Linked DNA regions of Homo sapiens. The protein of the gene in region 2 purifies or fractionates together with the protein of the main gene of each other region. This does not show direct contact. Each region holds a gene or a part of one and is shown on either strand. Other genes may lie near its edges.

Region 1 (4,372 bases), on a different chromosome or scaffold from region 2:
TTTAATCTTAACTATCTCCTACTATCACTGTCTCCAGATAGAGTCATATTAGGTTCCAACATATGAGTATTAGGAGGACAAAATTCCATCTGTAGCATTTTACCATTGGCTTCCCAAAATTCATATCTTTACTACATACAAAATACATTCATCTCATCTCATCAGCCCAAGTGCCTTAACTCACTGAAGCATGAACTCTAAGTCTAAAGTCAAAAGTCTCACCTAAACATTGTCCAAATCAGACGTAGATGAGACTAGAGGTGTGATTCATGATAAGGCAAATTCATCACCAGCTGTGAACTTGTGAAACCAGTTGAGCTACATGTTTCTTTTCCATAATACAATGGTGGGACAGGCATAGGATGGACGTCTTATTCCAAAAAGGAGATATAGGAAAGAAAGCAAGGGTGATGGGTCCCAAGCAAATCCAAAACTTATTAAGGTAAATTCTGTCACATCTTAAGGCTTATAAGGCTTGAGAATAGCTCTGTTTGGTTTGATGCTCTGCCTTCCAGGTCCACGGAATGGCAGGTTCTAGGGCTCTGCAAGACAGCCTGCTCTCTCTAAGGGCTCCATCCACACAGCTTTCTGTGAGGATAGCTCTGCTTCTGAGACACTAGGCAGGGTCATCCTGAGGGCTCACTAAAACCAGAGAGACAGTTTTGCCCTTTGAAACCAAAAAGGAAACTGCCTTGGCCTCTGGGTCTGTGGTGGAAGTGGCAACCCTGATGACTTCTGTATCACTTTTGGGGGCATTCTTTCCTTTCCCTGAAGAATAGTACACATTCACAGCCAAATAGCTCTATGGTCTGGTTCTGTAGAATCCAGAAAGTCCAGTATCCTTTTCTCATTCTGTCCTGCTTTCTCTGTCTCCTTCAGTTCAAACTGGAAGTGTATTTGCTGGTATAATATATCTCTACTCCTACCTTCTGCTGAAATGGCTGATTAAGTCCATCAGTAGCACCCATGATCTTGTTATCAATTGGTTGTTCTCTTTATAACACAATTTCTCATTTTTTGCCATATGGATAGGCTGAGAATTTTCCAGATATTTAAATTTTGGTTCCTTTTTGCATAACAACTCCTTCAATTAATTTCTCTTCTTTTGCATTTTACTATAAGCAGTTAGGGGAAATCAAGCTGCTCCTTCAGCATTTTGCTAAGAAATTTTCTCAGCCAAATATCCAAATCCATTACTTGTGAGATCAAGTTTTATCCCATTTTATAACAAGGATCACCTTTCTTCCAGTTTCCAATGACATTTTTCTCATTTCTCTCTGTGACCTCACCAGAATCACCCTGAACACCCATATTTCTACCATTCACCCAAAACTCTTACAGTCTCTATCAATTACCCAGTTCCAAAGCCACTTCCACACGTTTAGGTGTTTGTTACAGCAGCACCCCACTTTTTACAGCAAAGTTTTCATTAGTTAGGGTCACCAGAACAAAACTGCAATGATTATAATTAATTAATAGTTAACTTTCAATTTGTCTTTCATATGATATTTTTGGAAACATAGGATGCATACTACGAAAAGAAAAATAAGATAGCAGTTTAAGTGAGATTTACAAATAATGTAGGAGAAGGAGCTATAAAATGTTATGTTATTACTATTATTGAATGCTGTTTAAAATCTCACATTAGGTAAGGTTGAGATATATTGACAAAACAATCCTTTTATCAAATGCTTAATACATTGCTTAAAATGTATAAAAATGTTCAGAAGAATATGCAGCAGATTTTTTATAACCACTAAAATACTTTCTTCCAATGTATTTGTGTATATTTAATGTTACATAATCTTGATAAAATTTCTGGTAGTCATATTGTTTTTAAAATAAGGTAGTAGAAAGAGTGTTGGTTGGATGAAAAATGGTCTTTGATCAGTTGATATTTTCCCAGGCATCAATTTCCTCATTTGTTAAGGTGATAAAATAGATGATCTATCACATATGTTCCACTCTTAAAATTTTGATTCTAAAAATCTTGGTGTTTAGCATTGTGTCTTTCTGCTTTATTGAATTCTCAATCACTAGGCAGAATTTGAAGAATCTTCCTCAGTAAAATTACAAATACCTGCATTGCTTTCTGAGCAATCAGAGCCTGTTAACTCTTGGACAAGTTCATTGTTTCCTGTTTGACGAAGAACATTCAGAAATGCAGAGAACCAGTTTTCTTTCTGCACAATCCTTTTTAGTAGCTCTCTTACACCTGATTCATTTCCATTGTTTTCTGCAGCAGCAATCTGTTGTAAGAGAAAATTAGAATTAAGTAAGATCAAACATCTTCTGAATAACCTTAAACAGGAAATACCCTTTAGAAAAACTGAGCAATTAAGCATAAGTATAAATAAAGGCTTACATTGAAACATTGAAGAAAATAGCAATGTTACCTGTAGCAATTCTGAAGTCGGCAGGGAAAAAAATCTCCGGGACAACAACAACAACAACAACAAAAATCTCTGGACCAAGTGTCCTTTTAAATATGAACCATTTTTTTTAAAAGCTATTGAATTATTCAAACCTGACACCTAGAAAATAAATTTTACCTCAGCCATTCCTGAATAAAGGATAGAAGAGAAAGTATCTTTAGTCTGCAGCCATGTTATGTCTATTTTCACCAATTTCTTTCTGTATATCTAGGGCTGGCTATATTTTTTCAATCTATGGAGTCTGTAAATGGGAAATCAAACATTTCTTATCTCCTTTCTTCATGATTATCATTATGAAATAAGTAATTACTACTGCAGATTTATATTTTTTCCTATGTAATATTTGCATAGTTGATTATTACTATAATCAATTTTTCTCAAATTTGTGTTTTTTTAATGTTATGGGAAATTTATTGTTATATCTTTTTTTTGGAAATATGGGGCAGAATTATTTTTATATCCATTCATTAGAGTCTTTAGCCTTCTTTTATTTTCTCTTTTAGATTAGTAAATTTCTTTTAAATGTGGATCTTTTGTGTAATCATTGTCACAGTGCATTTCCCTAGGTCCTAATATAGCAATAAGGATTTGGAGGAAAGAGTAACTCAAGCCATGTTTAGACATGAAAGAAGTTAGGCAGGACATCATTAGCTTTCTGTGGCATTAGGCAATTTACTTCATCTCCCTAGACCTTGGTTACAATATGTGGTTACAAGGCAGCTGAAAAGAAATTTCAGAGTTTCTATATCTTAGCTGCATGTTAGAAACAACCGTAAAGCCTTAAAAAATACTGATGTCTAGGAAACACCCCTAAAAGATTATGATTTATTTTGTCTATGTTAGGAACTCAGATATTAAAGAAAAAGTAAAACATCTCATGTGATTCTATCAGCCTCCCAGATAAGAAATATTGACTTTGATATTATCAAAGGTCCTTCTCAACATTTGCCAATCTTCCACATGTATCATTTGGATTGTTTAGTTCTTTCCTACAAATTTATGTATTTTCTAGTTCTATAAATATATTCCATAACCTTTTATGTCAGAAATTTGTTAACATTTTTGGAACAATGTCTGGCACTAATTCAGTGTTAGAACTATTATGGATGATTGGGAAGAGTTATTGTTACAAACACCTCACCTGCACAAGCACATACAGCATGGTCTCTACCCAAGGGATATTTCCGTCTTAGCATCTAGTAGTTAAGCATGCTGTTCTAGGGAACTTGAATATATTAACCCAGCAGCCCAGAAATAGGTACCAATATTAACTCATTTACAGATCAGAAATCCGAGGCACAGAGATGTTTAGGTACCTCTCTGAGGTCACAAAGTGAGTAAGTGGCAGAAGTAGAATTTGATCCCAGGCAGTTGAATTTAGAGGCTGAATCCTGCCTTCTTGAACTATAATTATAGCTTATAATTTTCTCCAATTTTAAATTCATTTTCTGGCAAGAAGTGGTTAAAAATAACTATTTGAACTCAGTAAATTTCAAGTGAATTCAGTCCATGTCACCCACAACATTTTCTAAGCAGATTTTTGCTCATTTTTTACCATTTTTTTCTAGCTCTCTTAGTCTCCTAATGGAAATTCTTTGGCTTCCCTGATGTTGTAACATCTTTATTATCATCTGCTAATTTAACAAGTAATTGCTATAGATGTAAATAAGACTGGTTTCAGTGTCTTCTTTTAACTCAGCCATTCTCATATTTTATTACCCCATCCTTTAATCAGCTTTAAATATATTTGACTGAAGCAATCAGGAAGGATTTCCTTAAAAAGAACCAGTGAGGCAACAAATGCTGTTATTAAAAATCCCTAAGCATATTCTATCCACAAAATTTTCTTCAACCACTATTCTATTAAGTCAACTTTTACTGTGGAATCATATTTTTCAAGCTTTCTTTGCCGTTATTGAGTCCAAGCATATAAGGAT
Region 2 (5,244 bases):
GTCCTCTTCTGAAGGATGCTCCATACCCTCTGTCCATCCCAAGTCTGAGGTTGGCAAAGGAATCCAACTTGATTTTTTTTTTTGAGATGGAGTTTTGCTCTGTCGCCGAGTGCGGTGGTGCAATCTTGGCTCACTGCAACCTCCACCTCCTGGGTTCAAGCGATTCTCCTGCCTCAGCCTCCCGAGTAGCTGGGACTACGGGTGGCCAACACCATGCCCAGCTAATGTTTTTCGTATTTTTAGTAGAGACAGGGTTTCACTATATTGGTCAGGCTGGTCTCAAACTCCTGACCTCAGGTGATCCACCTGCCTTGGCCTCCCAAAGTGCTGGGATTACAGGCGTAAGCCACCTGTGCCTGGTCATATATATATATATTTTTTAGAGATGGAATTTCACTCTTGTGGCCTAGCCTGGAGTGCAGTGGCACAATCTCGGCTCACTGCAACCTCTGCCTCCCGGGTTCAAGCAATTCTCCTGCCTCAGCCTCCTGAGTAGCTGGCATTACAGGCACCCACCACCACGCCTGGCTAATTTTGTATTTTTTTAGTAGAGACGGGGGTTTCTCCATGTTGCTTAGGCTGGTCTTGAACTCCCGACCTCAGGTGATCCGCCTGCCTTGGCCTCCCAAAGTGCTGAGATTACAGGTGTGAGCCACCATGCCTGGCCTCCAACTTGATTTTTAACCACTCCCAAGACAGGGCAGGTTCCCATGAGCTCCCAGACCTTTATCTGTGCTTTTTCCTCTGCCTCGCTCACCTCGCCAACTCTTCTCCATCAGCCACTTCTCCCTTCATGCCTCGGTCATGTACCCCTCTGCTGCTGCCTCAGGCCTGGCGCTTGCTGCCCTCCTCACTAGCCTCCCTCTTGCTTGCTGCCCTCCTCACTAGCCTCCCTCTTGCACTGGACTGTGGGTCCATGGAGAATGGCAGCCCAGTCCAATTACTTCTGCAATCCCATGATCAGGCACAGGGCATGACACACAGAAGTCCTTCCAACGAAGTTTCATAAAGGACAAAAGGGTGCTAAGAGGGCCTCTGAGCTCCACCTATGGCATCCAGAAGTACCCCAAGTCAGCCTAGACAAAAAGAAATGAAACAAAGCCAACGAGCCTCACCCTGGGTAGGTGAGGACATCAAGGCCCAGGGAGCTGAAGCCCTTTGCCCCAGTTCCCACGGGAGTTGACAGGCTGAGACAGAGCCCAAGCCTTGTTTCTGATGGAAAGGCTGGGGTTCCTGCCAGTGCTACAGTGACACCCAGCCCAGGAAGGAGGGCTAGCCTGGTGCAGGCCCCAGAGCATCTTCCCTCAGCTGTGACAATACTAATGCTCCTGGCTAGGAAGTCACCTAAGGGACAGGGCAAGGCAGTGGCCCACCCTTAATACCAGTTTCTGCCCTACCCCAGAGTGTCCAGGGTCCTCTTCCCAGGAGTTCTTCAGCCTCTAGACTCCCTCAGCCCTGGCTTCTGTCCCCACTCAGCACTCTTGGGGAACATGGCACACTCTGGGCCCTGGGGGACTGGGGAATCCTCAAGACAGGCCTTTTTGCCTGTTTTGGTGTCTCTGGCCTCCTTCTTTCTCCCTTCTCAGCCAAGAAGTAGGCAGGAGAGGCTGAGAGGCAGGAAATTACCCTGACTGGAATGATCGTGCAGTTCCTGAGGAGCCCTGCTTGGCTCCGCACTGGGGTGGAGGCTGGCCACAGCATGAGAATGACAAAAACAAGAATGCCGGCCAGAGATCCAGGGCCTTGCACTCTCCAAGAAATCCTGATCTGTTCTTGGCAGCACCCCAAACCCAAGCTGCCTGCCCTCAAAGGCCAATCCTTGCTCCCCACTCAAAAATATTTTAATGATTTCCTGTTTCCTGCAACTGCCTGGAATCCAAAAGCTTCTCCTGTCCTTCAACGCCCCCCAGAATGTAGCCTTCACACACTGAGGTCTGAGGGTAAAGACAGGCCTGAGTTCAAATCCTGACTCTGACTCTGTCGCCTCTGTGTGATCTTGGGCAAGTCACTTCATTCACCTCTCTGCCTCCATTTCTGCATGAAGTCCTTAGCAGAGGGATAGGCACACGGTAAGCACAAGTCTCTGCTACTGTTATTACTCATTCGAATCCACCCCAGCCAGATCTGTCTGTATACTGTCCCCTCTAATTATCCACCCCGTGCTTATTTCATGCTGTGCCTTCTACTTGGAATGCCCAATTCCTTTTCCTCTTTTGGTCCAAACCCCTATCAACATTGTTCAATCTTCATCCTTTAATGGCTGCTGGGGTACCCATGATGGGGAGCACAAAAGGTATGAAGACAAAGAAATTTATAGGCACCCTGCCTGGGTGACCCCTCCCCTTGGTGAGGGATGAGCATCTCCAGGAGAGGTACTTTTTGGTGGAGGTAGTGTAGCATAGTAGTTCAGAGTATGAAGTCTATAGTCAGAATGCCTGGCTTTAAACCTTGAGTTTATATGTATAAAGTTCTTAGAATAGCTCCTAGTAAAGACTAAGCACTCGATGTGTGTTTTTGTTTTTTTTTTTTTGAGATGGGGTCTCGCTCTGTTGCCCTGGCTGGAATGCAATGGCAAGATCTCGGCTCACTGCCACCTCCACCTCCTGGGTTCAAGCGACCTTCCTGCCTCAGCCCCCCGAGTAACTGGAATTATAGGCATGCACCACCATACCCAGCTAATTTTTATATTTTTAGTAGAGATGAGGTTTCACCATGTTGGTCAGGCTGGTCTCGAACTCCTGACCTCAGGTGATCTGCCTGCCTCGGCCTCCCAAAGTGCTGGGATTACAGGCGTGAGCCACCATGCCCGGACTAGCACTCAATATTTTTTGCCTAGAATGATCATTATTAATACATCCTCCCATCCTGGAACTGTGATGCTCCATGACTGGAAAATGAGGTCCAAGACACCTCAGGTTGCTAAGTTTCCTGAAACTGCCCTTCTATCCCTCTATCTTCCCAGGTTCTCACCAGCAACTGGGAGGGAGGCAGATGGACCAGAATAGCCACACTAACTGGGGGAAAAACAGGCTCAAGGAATAACTGATGAGCACCAGGTACCAGACAGCGGGGCATTAGGGACCCGAGGTTACCCCCACCCACTGACACATGTGACATTTCACTGTCACTCTCTCTTGTCTTGCTTTAAACCAGTGCCTGCTGAAGGTGACTAGCTACTCTGAGGTTTACATCATGAACCCTCTCCCTCACCCTGGGTCAGGTCATGCTGCCTTACCATGGCTTGGAAAATCCACCCTCCCTTATCCTGTGCATTTCAAAAAGTCACTGGGATACCAACAACTTCTGCTCACTCCCGCCTGCAGGGCTTTTACTAAGAGAGCTCTTTCAAACCTGCTTAGTTGGCAGGACAGTGTAGTGGTCAGAGGCAGGCTCTGCCATCAGACTGGTTGGGTCTGTTCCACCACTTGTTCTACGTGTGACTTTGAACACATCACTTCACCTCTGAGTCCCGATGTCCTCATCTGTTGAATAGGGCTAATGATACGGTTGTGATGCGGACTGAGATCATACCTGAAAAGTGTCTATAAAAGAGTACCTAGCATAGTCAATGCTGAAAAATGCTACCTACTATTACAAATACCTTGCAGCATGAGTTTTGTCTTATACAGACAGTGTTCTCAGAAACAAAGCTGTAAAGTGAGGCCAGATACATAAAATCCATAATGTTGTCTGAACTGGAAGGGATCTCAGATGATGGTATGCACACCTCCATCAAGCGTCATAGCCTGATGCCCTTAGAGGCCAGGTATATATCAGAAATGCCCAAAGGGGGGTTGGTGGGAGCAGAGGCAGACTAGGGCACTTGTGCAGGGTCTAAAGGGCATGCTCAACATTAAGCTCTATATTATTGCTGCCACTAGGAAAACAGATCTTGTTGAGTTGCTAGATCTTTTGACTTCTCAAGAAAGGCTGGAAATCTCATTTTTAGGGAAAAATTCTTGATTCTTTGTACCACTCACATTTATTTAAAAACCCAACACAACAAAATAAAACCAAACCAAAGTATGGGTTCAATAAGACATGTCTGTAGGTCAGATTCAGCTCTGGGAAAGCCAGTTCACAGCCTCTGCATTGCCTCATAAAGTTGAGGCCTACAGCTTATGTGACTTGTCTAATGCCACAGAGCGAGAGAGCTCTCACTGAGCCTAGTCCAACCTTTTTCAAGTAGGCATGGCCTTCTGGGACACCCCCGCCACTTACCTGTGTTTGCATTGCTCCCAATACTGTTGATGGCTGGCGGCACTGAGCTGGATGGGTGGAAGGGCACGTGTCCATTTTCCCGGGGTGGCTTGTCCTGCCAGCCTGGCCCTGCCTCCCCAGGGCCTAGCTCTGCAGGGCCCCCCCACTCATCTGAGCCTTGACGTGAATGGTAGGAGGGCTCTGGCCGGGAGCGGAAGCCACTAGCCAACCGCTCTTCCAGGTGGCTCAGCCAGAGGGCCAGTGCGTTGCGGTCCTCCAGTGTGGTGGCTGGGTGGATGAGGGCATAGGAAAGCAGCTGGCGACTCTCCTCGATGAAAGCATTGCTCTCGATTGAGTAGGCCAGCACTTTCTGCAGTAGCCTCATGTACTCCGACTTGGCCTCTGTGTTGCCTGGCTGAAGCAGGGGAAGGTGGGACAGCAGGAGGGACACCACCTTCTCTTTGGACTCCTGCTGCCACTGGCTGACGATGGCTACAGAAGGGATAAGAAGAAATATCAGGAGAGCCAGGGTGGGGTACTCCTATTCACCTGAGAGCACTGCCTATGGCCTATTCCCTCAGCTCCAATCTTCTTTTCATAACGATTTTCTTTTCATAACTCCCAAACTTATCCCTCATATAGGTGAGATCAAACACACTGACCCTGCCTCTGGAGTAATTTTTGTCTTATTTTTTTTAAGAGATGGGGTCTCACTATGTTGCCCAGGCTGCAGTGCAGTGGCTATTCACAAGTGCAATCCCACTATTGATCAGCACGGGAGTTTTGACCTGCTCCATTTCCAAACTGGGCCAGTTCACCCCTCCTTAGGCAACCTGGTGGTCCCCCACTCCTAGGAGGTCACCATACTGGGGCCACACTTAGTGCAGACACCCAATCAGCATAGCACACTATAGCCCAGAACTCCTGGACTCAGGCAATCCTCTTGCCTCAGCCTCCCAAGTAGCTGGTACTACAGTCATGTGCCCACCACAGCTGGTGTAGAGTAATTTTTCTTTGTTCTATCACTCCTGTTCTCAGAAACCT

What was found. The genes of interacting proteins can lie anywhere in the genome.
Region 1: the proteins of SAMD4B (region 2) and IFIH1 purify together in Homo sapiens (co-immunoprecipitation; one large-scale study listed by IntAct). This does not show direct contact.

Annotation. Positions count from the first base shown.
Region 1 is NC_000002.12:162,308,685-162,313,056, forward strand, and holds part of IFIH1 (interferon-induced helicase C domain-containing protein 1), read right to left. Parts: intron 2,250-4,372; coding exon 2,081-2,249; intron 1,900-2,080; exon of another isoform or gene 223-1,899; intron 1-222.
Region 2 is NC_000019.10:39,369,103-39,374,346, reverse strand, and holds part of SAMD4B (protein Smaug homolog 2), read right to left. Parts: intron 5,186-5,244; exon of another isoform or gene 4,899-5,185; intron 4,693-4,898; coding exon 4,222-4,692; intron 1-4,221.